Linked DNA regions of Homo sapiens. The protein of the gene in region 3 purifies or fractionates together with the protein of the main gene of each other region. This does not show direct contact. Each region holds a gene or a part of one and is shown on either strand. Other genes may lie near its edges.

Evidence for each region. The genes of interacting proteins can lie anywhere in the genome.
Region 1: the proteins of PPP2R1B (region 3) and MARCHF1 purify together in Homo sapiens (affinity purification with mass spectrometry, with the first as the bait; one study listed by BioGRID). This does not show direct contact.
Region 2: the proteins of PPP2R1B (region 3) and MAP3K3 purify together in Homo sapiens (tandem affinity purification; one large-scale study listed by IntAct). This does not show direct contact.
Region 4: the proteins of PPP2R1B (region 3) and PDCD4 fractionate together in Homo sapiens (co-fractionation; one large-scale study listed by BioGRID). This does not show direct contact.

Annotation. Positions count from the first base shown.
Region 1 is NC_000004.12:163,523,373-163,527,553, forward strand, and holds the end of MARCHF1 (E3 ubiquitin-protein ligase MARCHF1), read right to left. Parts: 3' UTR 1,346-4,181; downstream 1-1,345. UniProt on the Homo sapiens protein: E3 ubiquitin-protein ligase that mediates ubiquitination of TFRC, CD86, FAS and MHC class II proteins, such as HLA-DR alpha and beta, and promotes their subsequent endocytosis and sorting to lysosomes via multivesicular bodies.
Region 2 is NC_000017.11:63,680,883-63,685,761, forward strand, and holds part of MAP3K3 (mitogen-activated protein kinase kinase kinase 3), read left to right. Parts: intron 1-883; coding exon 884-1,017; intron 1,018-1,453; exon of another isoform or gene 1,454-1,876; intron 1,877-4,634; coding exon 4,635-4,708; intron 4,709-4,879. UniProt on the Homo sapiens protein: Component of a protein kinase signal transduction cascade. Mediates activation of the NF-kappa-B, AP1 and DDIT3 transcriptional regulators.
Region 3 is NC_000011.10:111,748,032-111,752,910, reverse strand, and holds part of PPP2R1B (serine/threonine-protein phosphatase 2A 65 kDa regulatory subunit A beta isoform), read left to right. Parts: intron 1-578; coding exon 579-752; intron 753-4,879. UniProt on the Homo sapiens protein: The PR65 subunit of protein phosphatase 2A serves as a scaffolding molecule to coordinate the assembly of the catalytic subunit and a variable regulatory B subunit.
Region 4 is NC_000010.11:110,888,394-110,893,272, forward strand, and holds part of PDCD4 (programmed cell death protein 4), read left to right. Parts: intron 1-1,139; coding exon 1,140-1,237; intron 1,238-2,162; coding exon 2,163-2,277; intron 2,278-4,879. UniProt on the Homo sapiens protein: Inhibits translation initiation and cap-dependent translation. May excert its function by hindering the interaction between EIF4A1 and EIF4G. Inhibits the helicase activity of EIF4A. Modulates the activation of JUN kinase.

The sequences.
Region 1 (4,181 bases), on a different chromosome or scaffold from region 3:
GCACCAATCTAATATAATACTTAGCTGCAGCATGGACTCAGCATCTCAGCAACAGAGTGTCCTTCCCCTTATGTAGCACTACCAGTTCATCTGGCCCTTTTCTGTTTGTGTCTTTCTGTAGGACAAGACATACGGGAAGGCCGCACCTTTGCATCTTACTGTCTGTGTAAGTACAGTTGACCCTCCCTATCTAAGGGTTCTGCATCCTTGGATCCAACCAACCACAGATGAAAAATAGTCCGAAAAAAAAAAGTATGTACTGAACATGCAGAATTGTTTCTTGTCATTATTCTTTAAACAATACATTGTAACAACTATTTCCATAGTATTAGGTATTATAAGTAATCCAGAAATGATTTTAAGTATACAAGAGGGTATACATAGGTTATATGCAAATACTACACCATTTTTATATCAGGGATTTGAGCATCCATGAATTCTGGTATCTGAAGGAGGTCCTGGGACCAGTCCTCCACACATACTGGGGGGATGACTGTAATAAAACAGTCTTACAAGGGCCTGTTTCTCTACTGGCCGAATCCATCAGCCTTTGCTTGACATTTCCCATTCGGGATTTTGGTACTTACCATTCCCTCTTCCTGCGTTGCCATTCCCCTGAGCTTTTGCAAGGCCAACAATAACTGATTGTTCTCTCTTCCTTTAGGTCTGAGCTTAAAAGTGTTCTCTCTATCTAAAGCATCTCTACCCCCACACCCTTGCTACTCTTGGTTAATCTCTATCACAGCACCCAGTTTAGGATCACTGGACACATAATGACAGTGATTAATGATCTAGGAATGTTTGCTATAATTTCTGGTGGTGAGGGAGGGTGTTAAGTTCAGATTTCCATTTTGGGCAGAGGAGTTGGCTCATATAATTAGCAGACTGGTAGAAAGCCCTGTAGGTCCTTAGAAGTTGGACATTTGGAAACAGCTTTGTTTTTTGCTATCACCAAACCTCTTAGATTCTAATATCTTGCTTTTAATGTTTATTATCCATGCAATTATCTGAATCCACTATTATCTCTGAACAGAAAAATGCTGTTATATGCTTATTTTTCTATATCCAAGACTTATTCTTGAGACAGTCCCGCTTTAGATTACATTGTGATTTCTCTTGAACTCTTTTTTTAAAGCAGGTTTGAAAGTCCACATAGTTTATTTTCATTGGTTTCCCTCTGTTTGTGTATTTATTTATTTGTACCATGTCATGAGTTAGTCAACGTAGGTTTGCTTTAAAATAATTATATGTTCAGACCCTTGTAAAATCTTAAAAAATGTATGTGTGTTTGGATGTTGCAAATACAAATATCAGTCTGTTAGGCAAAAATTGTGGAAACCACAACTAAGGTTTGCGTCACTTGTTTAATATACAAAGTCTTTCACAGATAATTATTTTCTTTTTCTTAATTTGCTTTAGTACACATGATTCACAAAACAGTAAATTGTTAATGCAAGAGAATTATGTAAAACCAAAATAGTACAAATGCCTAATTTCAAAAACTGCACACAGTTAAAATAATTTTTCCTTCTTTGTTTTAATGCAGTATCCAGTTTCAAAATGGGCTTTCTTTAGATGTGGAGGAAACACTGCAGCCCAAAATAACAGTACTTCCTTTCAACTGTGTTGATATGTAAAATAGCACCATTGGGCTGACTTAGGAAAGAAAAAAGGTTTTCATCTTTCTTAATTAAAGTATTATATAACAACTATAATAATAATGATACTAATAACTTTTAAGAGCTGTACTCTGTTCTATAATATTCATTTTCAAGGCAAGGAAGGGTAAACTATATGGGGCAGATAGAAAAATCTTCCCACCTCAGCCCCAGGACCCTTATAATGTCCCTTAATGGTGTCATTGTTCTAATGAGCTAATTTTCCTGCCAAAGAATAGATGTTTTAAAGAGTACCCAAGGACCTTTTGTAAAACAAGATAAAAAACCATGAGGTCGTCTGTCTGGGACTATAATCACGTGTAGAAGCAGCGCAGAGTGAGATTTAATGCTGGGGTGTTTTGAAAGACTCCTTCAGTCTACACCTATCTTCCTTCAGGTTACACATTGCTGTATCTCAGGTTGTTGGGCTCACTTTAGTTTAGATTTTGTTCATTTTTATTTTGTTTTTGTACTTAAGCTTAATTGCCTTTTGGGCTTTACTTTTTAAAAAATTGGAATTTCTTTCTTTTACAATTTAATCTTTACTCCTGTACGATAAGAGTGATAGTTCTTTAAAAAAATTAACAGCATCAATGTCTGGTTTAATACTGAAGATTCATGATTATAAAGAGCCAAGGTTTTTAACACAACTGTAATTTCATTCTTCAATTTTAGTCCTTTTTTTTTCAATTCCATTTTATTTCTTCCACGAGCAGGTAAACATGCCTCAAAATTTGCATTCCGTAGAGCAGTTTTTCTTTTTGAAGGGTATAGTCAGTCAGTCTACAAAAAAGCACTGCCACAAAGCTAAATCGTTTTATTGTTTGAAAGGGCAAATGTTCCATTGCCACACAGAATGTAAAAAGAAAATAATCAACATTAGATTTTAAATGCAGGTAGTTATTTCAGATGTTTGAACCATAAACAAACAACCATTGCTGAAAAGCTTCTTAAAAGCTTGAAATTCAGAACTTCAGGGTTTCAAAAAGTCAGAAGAATAGCAAAATCAAGTGTTGACTTTTAACCTGCCAGGAAGCTATATTATATTATTTTCTCATTTCAACAATGTCCAAGCCCATAAAAGTTAATTGCAAGAATTTAGGTATAGTTTTAAAATCCCATGTCCTCTTTTACTATTAATAGAATAATGCTTACCTTTGCTTTTTATTCTAGAAATGTTTTCTTAGTGTTAAAAGTGTAGCCCTTAATAAATGAGGCTTTATTTTAGCCGATCATCCTCCACTGTGAAATCAGCCCTGCAACGTATCTTGTTTAGGTTCGTACAGAATTTAAACAATATTTTCCATGTTAATTAAAGTAAATAATTATTTTACTTTCAGAGCAAACAAAAGAGAAATCAACATTTCTTTGTTTGCTGGTGTCTGGATGTTTTTCCCCGGGAATATCTGTAAGCAGCATGTTGCCATTACTAACCCACAGGGAAAATGGATTAGTAAAAAGCTTAGGACAATTAACAGGAAAATTGCATTAAGGTTAATCCCTTGGATATGGTGCCATGGTTAAATCACCCACAGATTTGTTATTCATAAATGTATTTATCTTAAATATTTAAAATGGGCATTTAAGAGGAATTTAATATACAGTTTGTTTAAGGTCCACATGTTTTTTAAAACGTTAATTACTTATATCCTTATTTATACAGAATTTTTGGTTCAGTTTAGTTACCTCAACTTTGCTTTCCCTGTGCTTATAACAAGTTTTAAGAAAGATGAGTTTTAAACCTTTTGTTTCCTGACTGAATACCTTAACATTTTCCCCGCATATATACATGACTACACACACGCCATACACACACACAAAATTGACATTGTTTACCTTTTGTTTATTTCTAGGAATCAAGACTATCTGGACTCAGTGTCAGCCACTACTAATATTTATACCATCTTTCTCCTCATTTAAAGGTTTGTTTTTTTTTTCCCTTTTTCCTATGATCTGTGAAGAACAAGCACACTGATAATTACAAAGTGCATCCATGTGATACCCAGATTTGTGCAGTGTGATACTCATGCTTTGGTTCTTATGGCCATCATTGCCTTTTCATGTTAATAAATAATGACAGCTAACAAAAATAAGTCACCTTTTTTAATGTAGGACATCTTTCTTTGACAGGCTACTGTATCTATAATCACCGTTAATCTAGCTCACTGCAATGTCATTCACACATCAGTTTTACATGAATATGCAAAGAACACAATAATCAACTGTCAAACCTAAACGATTAATTACTTATCACAGAATCTGTTGAATATTTTTGTTTTCTAACTGAGCAAGGGAAATCCTGTCAGCTTTTAAAAGTAAGGGCTAGATTCTTAGTCATAATTACTCATCATCTGTCAAGTTGACACCTCATATGGATGAAATAAGCCTTACACATTTGATTTAATAACAAAAATAGGTAATTTTATTCCCCTATTGTAAGTACTTCATAGTAACAATTTATTTATTTCACAACTCTGCTATAGGCAGATTGATTGTTTTATCTTTCTATACTTTTGGATTTTT
Region 2 (4,879 bases), on a different chromosome or scaffold from region 3:
GATTGTTGAAAGGATTAAGTGAAGTAACAAATGTAAAAATACCTTGTGGAATGATTGCCACTTAGCAGCCACTCAAAAAATATTTGCCAAACCTCTGTTGTAGAGATGTTGAAAATCAAATGAGGTTAATTACTGTGAATGTGTAACAAAAAGTAAAGCACCACATAAATGCAAGATAATATCATTACTCAGACCAACCTGAGCAACATAGTGAGACCCTGTCTCAATTTAAAAAAAAAAAAAAAAAAGGTAATATCATTACTCATAAGCCAGGAAGTGTGGGAGTGGGTAGGAATGGAGAAGCCTGCCTTTTGATCCTGGCCAGACCATCACGAAGGCCTTTTTACCTGATACAAGTAGAGAACAAATAAGGGGAGACACTGGCTGGGGGAACAGGGCAACAGAGAGAGATGCACAGGTATATTCAGTTACCTTTCCCTGGTCCCCACCCTCAAAATACTGCTTGGACCCAAAACTAAAGAGGACTAAGCTGATGTATTGAGCTGATGGGAGGAAATGGCATTAGTGCTCTAGAGGAAGAGAGAAGGTGACATTATGAAGGAGTAATTATATATAAGAATTTTTTTAAAAGCTAGTCTGATTGCCAGCTAAAATGGTCTCCTAGGGGTTATTCTGGTTTCTGTTTTGTGTCAAGGTTTTTTTGGTCGGATATGCCGTAGTGCCTGCTCCATCTCTGGAGTTTGTTTCCTATTAGGAAGGGACTTTGTTTGCCTGAGGGAGCTGGCACATGCTGGACGTTGGTGCCATGACCCATCTGAGTCACATTCCTGACCTCTAGGGCCTAATAGTTGGCCCCATGCCTGCTCCTCTTGGGCCACACACCCTGGGCTCTGTTGTTGAAAGCCTCCTTTATGTGCTCTAGGCTCCCAGAACCCTGGCCGAAGCTCACCTCCCCCTGGCTATGTTCCTGAGCGGCAGCAGCACATTGCCCGGCAGGGGTCCTACACCAGCATCAACAGTGAGGGGGAGTTCATCCCAGAGACCAGCGAGCAGTGCGTGAGTATAGGGGGGCTGGGATATGCCTGTGGCCTGTATCAGCAGACCAAGCTCATAACAAGGGGTTCTTAGTAGTCACAGTGCAGAACTGAGGGACATGAACCCCATTTGAAAGCTCTTTTATAAACCAGGCCTGCCCAAATATGGATTGTCCCTTTTTAAGGGCCAAATAACAATTTCTGCCAAAGATGGGATCTAAAGGATCTAAACTACATAGTTTCCTTGTTGTTGGGTGAGGATTTAACAGATTTTTCTTCATCGTGGTCCTCTCATTGTTCCTACAGGCAGGCACCACCACGCCCAGCTCATTTCAGTAGTGTTTTAACATACGACTGGTTCTAAAGTGACAGGTTATGTTTTTCATTGGATATATTTTAGTTTTGCTGTTTCTTGATGAAAGGTAAGGAGTAAACCATATCAAAATTACACTGTAGGATTGGTTAGGCTGATCATTTATGATGGTAGACAGTTGTATTAGTTATCTATTGCTCCATAACAAATTACCACAAACCTAGAGGCTTAAAACAATATACATTTATCATTTTCCAGTTTCCCTGGGTGAGGAGTCCAGGCATGACTCAAATGGGTCCTCTGCTGAGGGTCACACAAGACTGCGATCAAGGTGTCAGCCAGGCTGCCTGCCTTTCTTGAGTTTGAGGCTCTTTTCTAAGCTCAGATGGTTGTTGCCAGAATTCAGTTTTTTTGTGGCTGTAGGACTGTGGTTCCTCTTTTCTTCTGAATGTCACCCAAGGGCTTCTCTGAGTTCCCTTCCTAGAGGCCACCTGCAGTTCCTTGCCATGGGGCCCTCTCACAACATGGCAGCTTCTTCAAAGCCAGCAGGAGAATCTTTTGCTCCAATCTGCAAAGATGGAGTCATAAAACATCACATAATCATAGGAATGAATATTCTATCCTCTTTGCCATAGTCTATTGGCTAGACTCACGTCACAGGTTCTACTTGCACTAAAGGGAAAGGCAGTTCATTGGGACTAATTGGAAGAGGGAGCAATCACCTTAGGGTGTGTCTACCACAGTGGCTCAGCCATTTTAGTGGCTAGCTTTTAAATTGGTGGCTTACTTGATGCAAATGGCAATTTGGCTTAGTGAACTCACCAAGCATGAGATCTCTAGCTTCATTCTGGTCTTTTCAATAAACTTGCTTTGATGTAAAAGAAAAGGCTGCTCTTACACTTTCTGGGCTTGGCCTGAGAAGGGGAAATTTCTTAAGGGGAAAATGTCCAACAGAAGGGCCTGTGCTGTCACATGGGAGATCTTATAAAAAGCTGATTCTTGTAACTTTTCTTTCATTATTCAAACTATGTAGGCTATGAGAAGCCCTTTGTACTCTTCTTCCTTCTATACTCCTGCCTTCCAGATAAATTCATGTTTGGAGTAGTGACCTGGAGTGCCATTAGCTGCAGATTTCCTTTTTGGGCATTTTACTGACCATCCTTTCTGGTTTCTCTAACCAGGGCACTTCTGGACATCAGCTGTTCTAGGGGTGACTTGGGTGTAAAATCCCAGAGATTGCAGATGAGCTTGATTGCCCTCAGTCTATGTCCCTCGCCATGGTCCTATACTCTGCCCCCTTCACTTTTTTACTTTGCCTGCATGGCCCTGGAAGGCCTGGGAGGATTTGACTCCCAGTGAGGACAGACTTTTAGAAAGAGGCCAAGGAAGGCAGTGGTTGGGGATTGCCAAGGTCCTCCCCCAGCGCCTGCCTCTTTAGCTGAAGAGAATTGCTCCTGGTAACAGGCCATTTGAGATCAATCTGCTTAACAGGAACGAACACTGCATAGTATGTAATAAAAGAATATTCCAGTGTGACTTTACTGAAAAGTGAAAATATGATAAGTTTTGTTTTTTCTTTAATCAGGTTTAAGCAATAATTGCATCTATTTACTAATTTTTAGAATGAGCAAAGCATGATTCATGTTAATTTTTTGGCCTAATTTTTCCAACAAAAATTATGTCAGTCCGGTCGCAGTGGCTCATAGCTGTAATCCCAGCACTTTGGGAGGCCAAGGCAGGAGGATTGCTTGAGGTCAGGAGTTCAAGACCAGCCTGGGCAACATAGCAAAACCCTGTCTCTACAAAAAAAAAAAATTTAATTAGCTGGGCATAGTGGCACACCTGCCTGTAGTCCCAGCTACTCGGGAGGCTGAGGTGGGAGGATCACTTGAGCCCAGGCTGCAGTGAATTGCACTCCAGCTTAGGTGACAGAATGAGACCCTGTCTCGAACAACAGCACCAACAACAAAATGCTAGCACAATGTAACGTCCTTCACTCCCTGCTTGACTTCTAACCATAAAGAACGTCATTTTTTACAAGAGCGTTCACAGGACTCAGCAGTTTTCCCCAAGGCCTCTTGTGAATCTTTGGTATTCTTCCTCCACCACACCTGCCATGTTATTTATTTGTCCATTTTGTCTTTTTCTGTTAACTAGTCTAAATTTGCCAAATATGCATCTGATGGATTTAAAGCAATTCTCTCCGATGTTGGTTTCATCCACTTTGGCTATCCTATATCCTTAGCAACATTTGCAGTTTTACTTTGCAATTAATTTGCCTTGATTGGCAGATTTTAAAAAATCATGTGTGACAACATGACTTAAAGCATTTGAAATTATGGGTGGGGATGGACCCTGGTATTAAATGGGAAAAAATATTTGAGTTGGAAACTAATTTTATGGAGGTCGTTAGTGAATTTTCATAATTCTGATACTTTGTTTCCCTATGTAATTTTTTAAAATTAATTAAAAAAATATTTAAACAGAAACAAGATCTCACTATGTTGCCCAGGCTGGTCTTGAACTCCTGAGTGCAAGTGATCCTTCCCTCTCGGCTCCCAAAGTGCTAGGATTACAGGCATGAGCCACCAAGTCTGGCCCCTATGTAATGTTTAATGTTGGAGCTCGGATAATGAATATTCTGAAATTGAAGACCCCACCCCAACTTTTGTGCAGAGAAAATGAAAGGGAGGACCTTCAGGACATTGATTGGAGAAAAAGGGATTCCAAAGGCCTTTTGTTGCTGCATTTGACCAGGGGCCAGAGAAATATTTTATTATATTTAGATATCTATTACCTCTGCATTGGACCAGGAACTGGGACATTTTTGTTCTGGTATCAGCTGTGCACTAACTAGTTTTATGACTTTAGACAAGTCTCCTAACCTTTCTAGGCCTGTAGTGCTCATCTGTGAAATGAGGCAATCCTTGTCTTTGTAAATTATAAATTATGGAGTGTAAACAGAAGCATTAAGGTCCCACCCGAACTCACTGGAAGGCTCAGCAGGGTAGTACCATCTCCAGCGCCAGGCTCCAGTGTTAATGAGCCAAGAACATGCCAACAAGAAAAGCAGAGCCTCTGCTTTGCTCTCCTGCCAGAGCTCCTTGGGATGCCAGCCAAGCATTTTTCTCCCTCCTGGAAACTTGCCTTTCAAACTAAGGGGGAGGATGGTACCTTTCTAACTATTCTTCCCATTGCATGGGGAGAAAAAGGACACTTTCATGTTTTGACAAAAAGGCCCATTTGCTGGCCCTTGCCATAAAGCCTGGGTCACTGGGGGGAATTGGGGCTGGGGGTGTGGCTTCATTGTTTGACTTGCCTTACAGATGCTGGATCCCCTGAGCAGTGCAGAAAATTCCTTGTCTGGAAGCTGCCAATCCTTGGACAGGTCAGCAGACAGGTATGGGACTGTGGGTGGTTTGGAGGGTAATGCATAGGCATTTTTGGAATTGATGGGTTGAGGAAGAAGAGTTAGCTCTGGAGGCCCAGGGTTAAAACATCATGCTTCTAGGAAAAGCCTTCTCCTTAATTTCCCCAACACCACGAGAATGTTATGATGGCATAATTAAAT
Region 3 (4,879 bases):
GCTCACTGCAAGCTCCGCCTCCTGAGTTGATGCCATTCTCTTGCCTCAGCCTCCTGAGTAGCTGGGACTACAGGCGCCTGCCACAGCACCCAGCTAATTTTTTGTATTTTTAGTAGAGACGGGGTTTCACTGTGGTCTCGATCTCCTGACCTCGTGATCTGCCCGTCTCGGCCTCCCAAAGTGCTGGGATTACAGGTGTGAGCCACCGCACCCGGCCAATTATCCCATTTTACAGATGAGAAAGCTGAGGCATAGAGGGTTAAAGTAACTTGAGCAAGGTCTTTCAACAATGACAGATCTGAAATTTGAGTGCATCTGATTTAGTTCCAGAGATTATGCTCTTTACCATCTTACGGACTTTTCTTGTAGTCTTTAGTATTACGGACTTTTAATTGAAATTTCTGATTAAGATCATTTATGTTCCTTGAGTTATTTATGTATTCACTATTATTTCTTCAAGATTATCCATTTTTTTTTCACCTGAGTCTTACCTCACCTTTTATCTTACCCTGACAGGAGACTGTTGGGCAGAGTACTTGATTTTTAAATGTGGTCTTTTGGGGCTTGTGTACTTGCAGTGTCCTGACGTTCGTTTGAATATCATCTCCAATTTGGATTGTGTAAATGAAGTGATTGGAATCCGTCAGCTCTCTCAGTCTCTCCTTCCTGCCATAGTGGAGCTGGCAGAAGATGCCAAATGGAGGGTCCGCCTGGCCATCATTGAGTATATGCCGCTGCTGGCAGGCCAGCTGGTGAGTATGTGTTGCTCCATGAACTGCAGGGTAGTGTCAGATAGTGACAATTTACCATGGCAAGTAGGAGGCCTAGTAGCCTGTATGCTTATGTTTGTTTAGATGCATGAAAGTATGGCCTTGTTCTTGTTACCTATAGGATGGTTTTTATGTTTGTTAGTGCATACGTTTCTTTTCTTTTAAGATGGAGTTTCACTGTTGTTGCCCAGGCTGGAGTGCAATGATGCAATCTTGGCTCACTGCAACCTCCACCTCCTGGGTTTAAGCGATTCTCCTGTCTCAGCCTCCCAAGTAGCTGGGATTACAGGAATATGCCACCACACCCAGCTAATTTTGTATTTTTAATAGAGATGGGGTTTTACCATGTTGGTCAGGCTGGTCTTGAATTCCTGACCTCAGGTGATTCACCCGCCTCAGCCTCCCAAAGTGCTGGGATTCCAGGCGTGAGCCACTGCATCTGGCCTATTAGTGCATACATTTCTAACAAAAAGGTATAGGTTGAGTATCCCTCATCTAAATACGCTTGGGACCAGCATGTTTGGGACCAGAAGTGGATTTTGGAATATTTGCATTATAAATATTTACTGGTTGAGCAGCCCAAATTCAAAAATGCAAAGTCCAGAATGCTCCAATGAGCATTTCCTTTGAGCATCATATCAGTGCTCAAAAAGTTTTGGATTTTGGAGCATTTCACATTTTGGATTTTTGGATTTGGGATGCTTAATCTGTATTACAGAAACATATTTCACCTCATCACCACCGAAAAACAAAGCCATAGAATAATCAGTTTCTTGGTATATATAATGTAAATTTTATAATATTTAATGCCTTTGTGACTTAAGAAATGTTTAACTGAGAAGAAAAGGGATTATGGTTTTAGGGTAAGTCTGCTGTGATTTTTGCTCAAGGAAACTTCCCTGTTTGCCTTGTATTCTAAGCAAAATGTCCCTAGGTACCACTTGCCCTACATTCTGATTAAAGGGAGTTGAGGAATCACCATATAGAAAAGAAGTATTGAAAGGCCGGGCACAGTGGCTGACACCTGTAAACCCAGCACTTTGGGAGCCAGAGGCAGGCGAATCACTTGAGGCTAGGAGTTCCAGACCAGCCTGGCCAACATGGTGAAACCCCATCTCTACTAAAAATACAAAAATTAGCTGGGCACGGAGGTGCACACCTGTAATACCAGCTACTCGGGAGGCTGAGGCAGGAGAATCGCTTGAACCCAGGAGGCGAAGGCTGCAGTGAGCCAAGATTGCACTACTGCACTGCAGCCTGGGCAACAGAGTAAAACTTTGTGTCAAAAAAAAAAAAACAAAACAAAAACAAAAACTGAAGCTTGTAATGTTAGTATTTTGGTCAAAGTCCACATTATCACATTATCTGTTACTGTTTGAGTTTCGTGATCAGTGTTACCCTAACTAATACCATGTTAGTTAAAATTTCAAAGCTGGGTTTTATAGCCACATCCTTTCCTTTTTTTGAGTAGGTGGCCTAGACAGTTCTAAGTTTGATGTACCTTCATCTCTGTTGGTAGCACTTATTACAGAGTATTGTAATTGTCTGTTACAGTCTAGTTGGAGAGATGGGTGATCTCTTTTAGGGCAGGGACTGTATTTTATTTCCAGTCCCTACCATAGTGCCCGTCATTAATTAGGCACTTAACATTTTTTATTTTGGGGGCAGGGTCTTGCTGTTGCCCAGGCTGGTCTTGAACTCATGGCCTCAAATGATCCTCCTGCCTCGGCCTCCTGAGTAGCTGATAATAGGCATGAGCCACTGTGTATAGCCAACATTTGTTGATTGTTGAGTATTTTTTGAGAAAGATGTGTCAGTTTACTATTGACATCGCTACAGTTTGTTTCCCCTTCCTCACTCCCACTTCCATTCCTTTCAGGTCACAACATATGGAATTTATTTTTTCTTGTCTTGAACCCCTGAATTTGTATTTTTAATTTTAGTACATTTAGTTTATGAACATGCAATTTGTGGATGTCTGTGGCATTATATGTTTTATAAAATTGAAAGTGTCCGATTCTTTGAAAAGTATACCAGAGGTATTAGTGCATGGCAAATGGGATCAGGTGAAGTTATTTTGTCATCCTTTTTGTCTGTCACTCCCAAGTGCTATGGGTCATCTTCTCTTCACTGGTGATTGTCATGGATCTACTTTTCAGAGTGGAGAGGAGCAGTGATTAACTGATTTGCTGAAGACCAAAACTATCTGGAAGGGAGGGTGCATTTTAGTACCATTTCTTTTAACCTCTGCTCCTTCTAGACCTGGAAAGTTTCCCAGGGTTGCTAGCTCTATAGAGAGCAGTGTGAAAGCAAGGCAGATGGTGTCTTTGGCTGACTTACACCTGTCTGGCAGGGGTGACATGCCTCAGTCATGAACATTTTGCTTTACAATTTTAACTTCTTGTTAGTATATATATTCTCCTTAATTTCTCTTCATATCTAAATATTTTTATATCAGATAGTCATTTTATAAAATTCTCTCAAGACTTTATGTATGACCTGGCTTGTGGACGATGTTAAGTAAGTGTAAAGTTAAACTACAAAAACCGGAAAATAGGCCAGGCGTAGTGGCTCACGCTTGTAATCCCAGCACTTTGGGAGGCCTAGGTGGGTGGATCACCTGAGGTCAGGAGTTTGAGCCCAGCCTGACCAACATGGTGAAACCCCATCTCTACTATACAAAAAATTTAGCCGGGTGTGGTGGTGGGTGCCTGTTACTTGGGAGGCTTCTTGGGAGGCTGAGGCAGGAGAATTGCTTGAACCCAGGAGGCGGAGGTTGTAGTGAGCTGACATTGCACCACTGTACTCCAGCCTGGGCGACAGAGAGAGATTCCGTCTCGACAACAACAACAACAACAACAACAAACTGGAAAATAAAAGTTAATTAAAACTGAAGGAAAATTCTCAACCTGAAATGAAAAAGAAATCTTGGCTGACGTAATCTAAGTGTATGCCAAAATTTGTTCATTATGATCTTTTAGTACAAAGCAATTTTGGGCCAGGTGCGGTGGCTCATGCCTGTAATCCCAGCACTTTGGGAGGCTGAGGCGGACGGATCATCTGAGTCAGGAGTTAAGAGACCAGCCTGGCCAACATGGTGAAACCCTGTCTCTACTAAAAATACAAAATTAGCTGGGCATGTGCTGCATATCTGTAATCCCAGCTACTTGAGAGGCTGAGGCAGGAGAATCACTTGAACCCGGGAGGTGGAGGTTGCAGTGAGCTGAGATTGTGCCACTGTACTCCAGCCTGGGCAATAGAGTGAGACTCCATCTCAAAAAAAAAAAGCTATTTTGTCTTATTCAATCACTATTTTCAAAGCACTGACACATTATATTACCTCTCTTTTTTTAAAATATAGAATCACCAGTCAGGAACTTCTTAGAGTTCAAAGAAGCAAGACTGTAAATGTGTAGACCCCAGAAGGGAGGCACTAGGAAAGTGTGTCACAGCATTCTCCATGTGGTGTGGAAGCCCCGGGGTTAGAGGACTGTGTAAATCTGCTCCCGGAGCCCATCCCCAGCCTGCACTGAAGTGGCCACCTGTTGACAGTCGGGAGGAACAGGGCTGGGAGAGCAAGCCATGCCTGGGCCATATGCCCTGTAGTCCTGGGCCTGCTTTATTCTCCCTCCAGGGCTTTCTCCTGTTGTCTCGAAAATACTCTCTTTAACTGGGGATATCTCTATGTCTTGAGGTCAGTTGCTTTATCCTTAAGGATTTGTCATAATAGTAACCAAAAAGGGAAGACGATTGAGAATTAGTAATATTACTGACAGGTGTTTTCCTGGGTAATTCATTTTTACAGGTAATCCAGATTTGCTTGGCAGACCATACACAGTGCATTCTTCCTGCTCTTTTGCAGTGTTGTGGCTGACTTCTGGCCACCCTGTTCTCTTTTACCTAGCAGGGCCTATGCCAGCTCACGTATGCTTTTTTTTTGTTTATGATTTCCGTCCAATAAATAGATTTATGGTTTGTTTGTAATTCCTGTGGTGTTTCTATCTCTTATTTGTTTATTTGGAAACAAGTTTTTTTAGCCTTCAGGTAACCTTGGTGTAATGTAAATAGACCATCTTTATTTCTGAATTTTGGCAATGTATGTTAATGGA
Region 4 (4,879 bases), on a different chromosome or scaffold from region 3:
TGTTTCTGTTAAACTTAATGACAGACAATACTCGGTATGAGATATTAAGTGGTGATTCTAATGCAGACATTTTTTCCTTTTATACCAATACACATACTTTAAGAAAATGATTACATAAGTTTATATTTATTGTAGAATTTTTGAAAAATAAAAGCCAGAAAGAAGAAAGGCCAGCAAAAACTGCTACTGGTGTTAAGTTTTCCATTCTCCTTTCTGTGGGTATATATCAATGTATGGCTTCTATAAATCCTTAATTTTTTAAAATTAAAAAAATGGAATCATACCATTATGCTATTTTATAAACTTGATTTTTCTCATACCATAAAATATGGTAAATATCTTTCCCTGTGGCCACATAGTATACCATTTTATGTGTATACCATTTAACCATACCTTTATTTTTGGACACCAATTTCCAGTTTTTATAATAAGTAATGCTGTGAACATACTTTCAACTATTTCTATACAACTTTTTTTCTCCACAAGATAAATTCCTTTGATTAGTTTTTGAGAGAACCTAGTCCTTTTTTTTTGTTTTGTTTTAAGAAGAGAGGACGTCACTTGACCTTAAATCATTCGTTTAACCCCAGCACTTTGGGAGGCCGAGGCAGGCGGATCACGAGGTCAGGAGTTCGAGACCAGCCTGGCCAAGATGGTGACACCCCGTCTCTACTAGAAATACAAAAATTAGCCAGGTGTGCGCCTGTAGTCCCAGCCACTCGGGAGGCTGAGGGAGAAGAATCACTTGAACCTGGGAGGTGGAGGTTGCAGTGAACTGAGATCGTGCCACTGCACTCCAGCCTGGGCGACAGAGCGAGACTCTGTCTCAAAAAAAAAAAAAAAAAAAAAAAATTTGATCATATGCTATGTATTCAGGCAGTGTGCAAGGTGTTAGGGATTCATTAGTGAGCAAAACAGATGTGGCCCCCACTCTGGCACTTAACTTGAAGGTTAAGATGTGGGAGTGTATGCCAGGCATAACAGGTACTACATAGGTTTTTTTTTAAAAAAAAATTCCAGCATCTTTTAGGTACTGACTGTGTACTTCAGCTAATCTTCATCATTTATGTATTTAGAAATTGTGACCTATAAAAGTTATTTAACTTTTTTTATAGCTCTTTTTTTTTTCCTTTTTACAGTTGGTGGGCCAGTTTATTGCTAGAGCTGTTGGAGATGGAATTTTATGTAATACCTATATTGATAGTTACAAAGGAACTGTAGATTGTGTGCAGGCTAGGTAAGTAAATCACTTTTCCTACTTAGAATTTCAAAATAGGGGAAAATTCTACAGGATCCTATTGAAATGACACTTGTGTTAATCAGACACTCTGTACATCTGTTTGTCACTTCTCTATATTCTCCACTGTTAAAATGGAGAGACTATTGGCATGATATACCAGGAAGAGGACAGTACTATAATGGAAAAGTTCTGGAGTTTAGCTAAATCATTAATTACCTTCATGTCAAGCCACTCTTCTTTGGGCCTCAGTTTCTTTATTTATGAAACAAAACCATTGGACAGATCTTTAAGTTCTGTTTTCAGGTTCTAGCATTGTGTAATAGTTTAATATTCTAATAAGATGGATAACCTTAAGAAGAGAGGCCTGATTTATAGTTTTATTTTGTATTTATCTACTGTAGAAATCTTAGTCAGAAAGTATCTTTTTCACTCTTGTGATTTAGTATAATTAATATGATATTTGGTATAACTAAATGTGATATTTGGGAGTTATGCTATTTGATTTTTCTTAACTTCTTGGAGACTTGGACTCAGCCATGTCTTAGTTTTCCTCAGGTCTATATATTAACTTAATTTTCTAGGGCTACTTCACATCATAGTGGAATGGTGTCCCTGGGTAGGAAGGCATGGATCTAGGTGAAAGTTAATTATATGTGAAGTGTTTCTTCTCAGTGTAGATCAGTTATTTTGTAATGTGTTTTGATTTTTCTTGAATGAGAAATGAAATAGAGCATGAGAATATTAACATGAGGATCAACTTCTTTTTGCTCCTTTTTGTTTTGAAAAAGTGTTTTGAATTTTATTTTGCTTTTATGTTATGTGAAAGATTTAGGGCATATAGGATTTTGTCAGCTTTATCCCTAATTTAGTAAACTTTAGGTATGTCCAGCTATCAAACTTAAATTTTTTTCTTTCTCTGTAGAGCTGCTCTGGATAAGGCTACCGTGCTTCTGAGTATGTCTAAAGGTGGAAAGCGTAAAGATAGTGTGTGGGGCTCTGGAGGTGGGCAGCAATCTGTCAATCACCTTGTTAAAGAGGTAATGATTGGGTATTGTTTTTAACTTAATTTATATGTATTCCTCTGAGTGAAATAAATTGTGGCTACTAGCTGGTATTTTTATGGACAAAAATTAAGTTCGGTCTTACAGCTGCAATTGGAAAATGAAATAATTTTTTTAATATGTGGCTTTATAACCTTTTATTATAAATTATATGATTAAAAAATGAGTCTGTTAAAATGGCTTTCATGAATAATTATAAGCAAGCCATCTATGAACTTCAAAGGAATGCCTGAAATCTTTTTCTTATAGTATTATTTAATAATTTTCAAATGCTGTTGAAATGAGATTTTCTGTGTTTTAGCTATTCAATAAATACGCTTTTATATGAGCAATTTAAAACTAGATAGTCTTAAATAATGAGTTATGAATTATGAGCACTAGAGCAGATCAGAGTGTTAGATTTTTGTGAGGACATTCACTACCCATATGCATGTTTTAAAAGAAAATTGATTGTAATCCCAGCACTTTGAGAGGCTGAGGCGGGTGGATTGCTTGAGGCCAGGAGTTTGAGACCAGCCTGGTCAACATGGTGAAACCCCGTTTCTACTAAAAATACATAATAATTAGCCAGGCATGGTGGTGCGCACCTGTAATCCCAGCTACTCGGGAGGCTGAGGCACCAGTATTGCTTGAACCCAGGAGGAGGAGGTTGCAGTGAGCTGAGATCACACCACTGCACTCCAGCATGGGTGACAGAGCAAGACTCTGTCTCAAAAAAAAAAAAAAAAAAAAGCGATTTATTGCATTAAAATGCCAGATTTATTCCCTATGGATTTTTTTTTTTTCTGGCTGCAATGTGGTGTCCTATAACAAGAAACCAAAAAACAGAAAAAACTCCTTATCTGCAGATCTCTTTAAGAAAAGGCATGCAACTAGAAGATTTGTAGTTCATGTGCTTCTGATTTTTGAGTATAATCTTTTCATGTAACTACAATTTTGATTTTTAGTAAGTCTTTTAATGAGGTGTGTGTGTGTGTTTGTGTATGTGTATCTAGCTTAAGTGTTAAGGAGTTCAAATTGTAGTTAGAGCCTTGACTGTTTTTGCTTTTATATATGTTAAAATAGATGAGTCAGTGTTTGTAATGTCGTGATTGCAGTATCTGTTTTTTAAAAATTAAACAATTATTAGAAAAATTGAGGTATAAAAATAGTCAAGATGCCAGGGCAATTAGGCAGGAAAGATAAAAGGCATCCAGATTGGAAAGGAGGAGATAAAACTAGTTGTATTCCCAGATAACATGATCTGTATACAGAAAATTTGAATGAATCCACATTTTTTAACTCCCCAAAACTGAAACCAAACTATTAACTAAAAAATGAGTTCAGAAAGGTTGCAAGATAAAAGATCAGTACACAAAATTCAATTCTCTATACAGTAGAAATGAATGATCTGAAATGCAATTATTGCATTTGTGATAGCATCAAAAATAAAATACTTAGGAATAAATTTAACAAGACAAATGCAAGTCTTGTACACTGAAAACTGCAAAACAGGTTGAAAGAAATTAAGGAAGACCTAAATAAATAGAATGATATCCCATGGTTATGGATGAGGATACTTAATATTGTTAAGATGGTAATACTCTCCAAAATTAATATTTTTGGAAACTGGACAAGCTGTTTTATGGTGTGTGAATTCTCTCTCAATAAAGAAAATTGACAAGATAAAAATGGAAATAAAACTGCCAGTATATGAGTTTGAGGTTGACATTATTTGGATATTTGCTTACATGGAAGGGTTGGATCAAAGAAGACTTTTAGAAATGTATAAATGTATTTGTAATTTATCATTCTCAGAAGTGCATGGAATTTGATGGGGGATATTTTTAATACTTCTAAAGTTATGTAACAAATGTTAAAAGTAAGTAATATAATTTGAATAACAAGTACAGTCACGTGCCACATTATGATGTTTTGGTCAGTGATGGACTGTGTGGGATGGTGGTGGTCCCATAAGGTTATAACGGAGCTGAAAAATTCCTATCGTTGAGTGATATGGAGGCAGTTGTAATGTTGTAGCACAGTTACTTTATTTTTTCATAAATTTAATGTAGCCTAAGTATACAGTGTTTATAAAGTGCATAGCCAGTGTATGGGTAATGTCTTAGGCCTTTACATTCACTAACCACTCACTCATTGAATCACCCAGAGTAACTTCCATCCTGAAAGCTCTATTCATATTGAGTGCTCTATACAGGTGTATCATTTTAAAAATCATTTACACTGTTTTTTATTGTACCTTTTCTATGTTTAGATACACAAATACCATTGTGTTCCAATTGCCTATATTATTCAATATAGTGACCTGCTGTACAGATTTGTAGCCTAGGAGCAATAGGCTATACCATATAGCACTGGTGTGTAGTAGGCTATACCATCTAGGTTTTTGTGAGTATACTCTATGATGTTTGCACCATGACAGAGTCATCTAACACACTTTTCAGAATGTATCCCTGTTAAACGATGCATGACTATGCATTAGTTTGTAATTGTAAAAATACTCAAATGCTATGCTTTAAATATTTACTTACATGTAAATATTTAAATACATATTTACTTACATGTAAATATTATATCC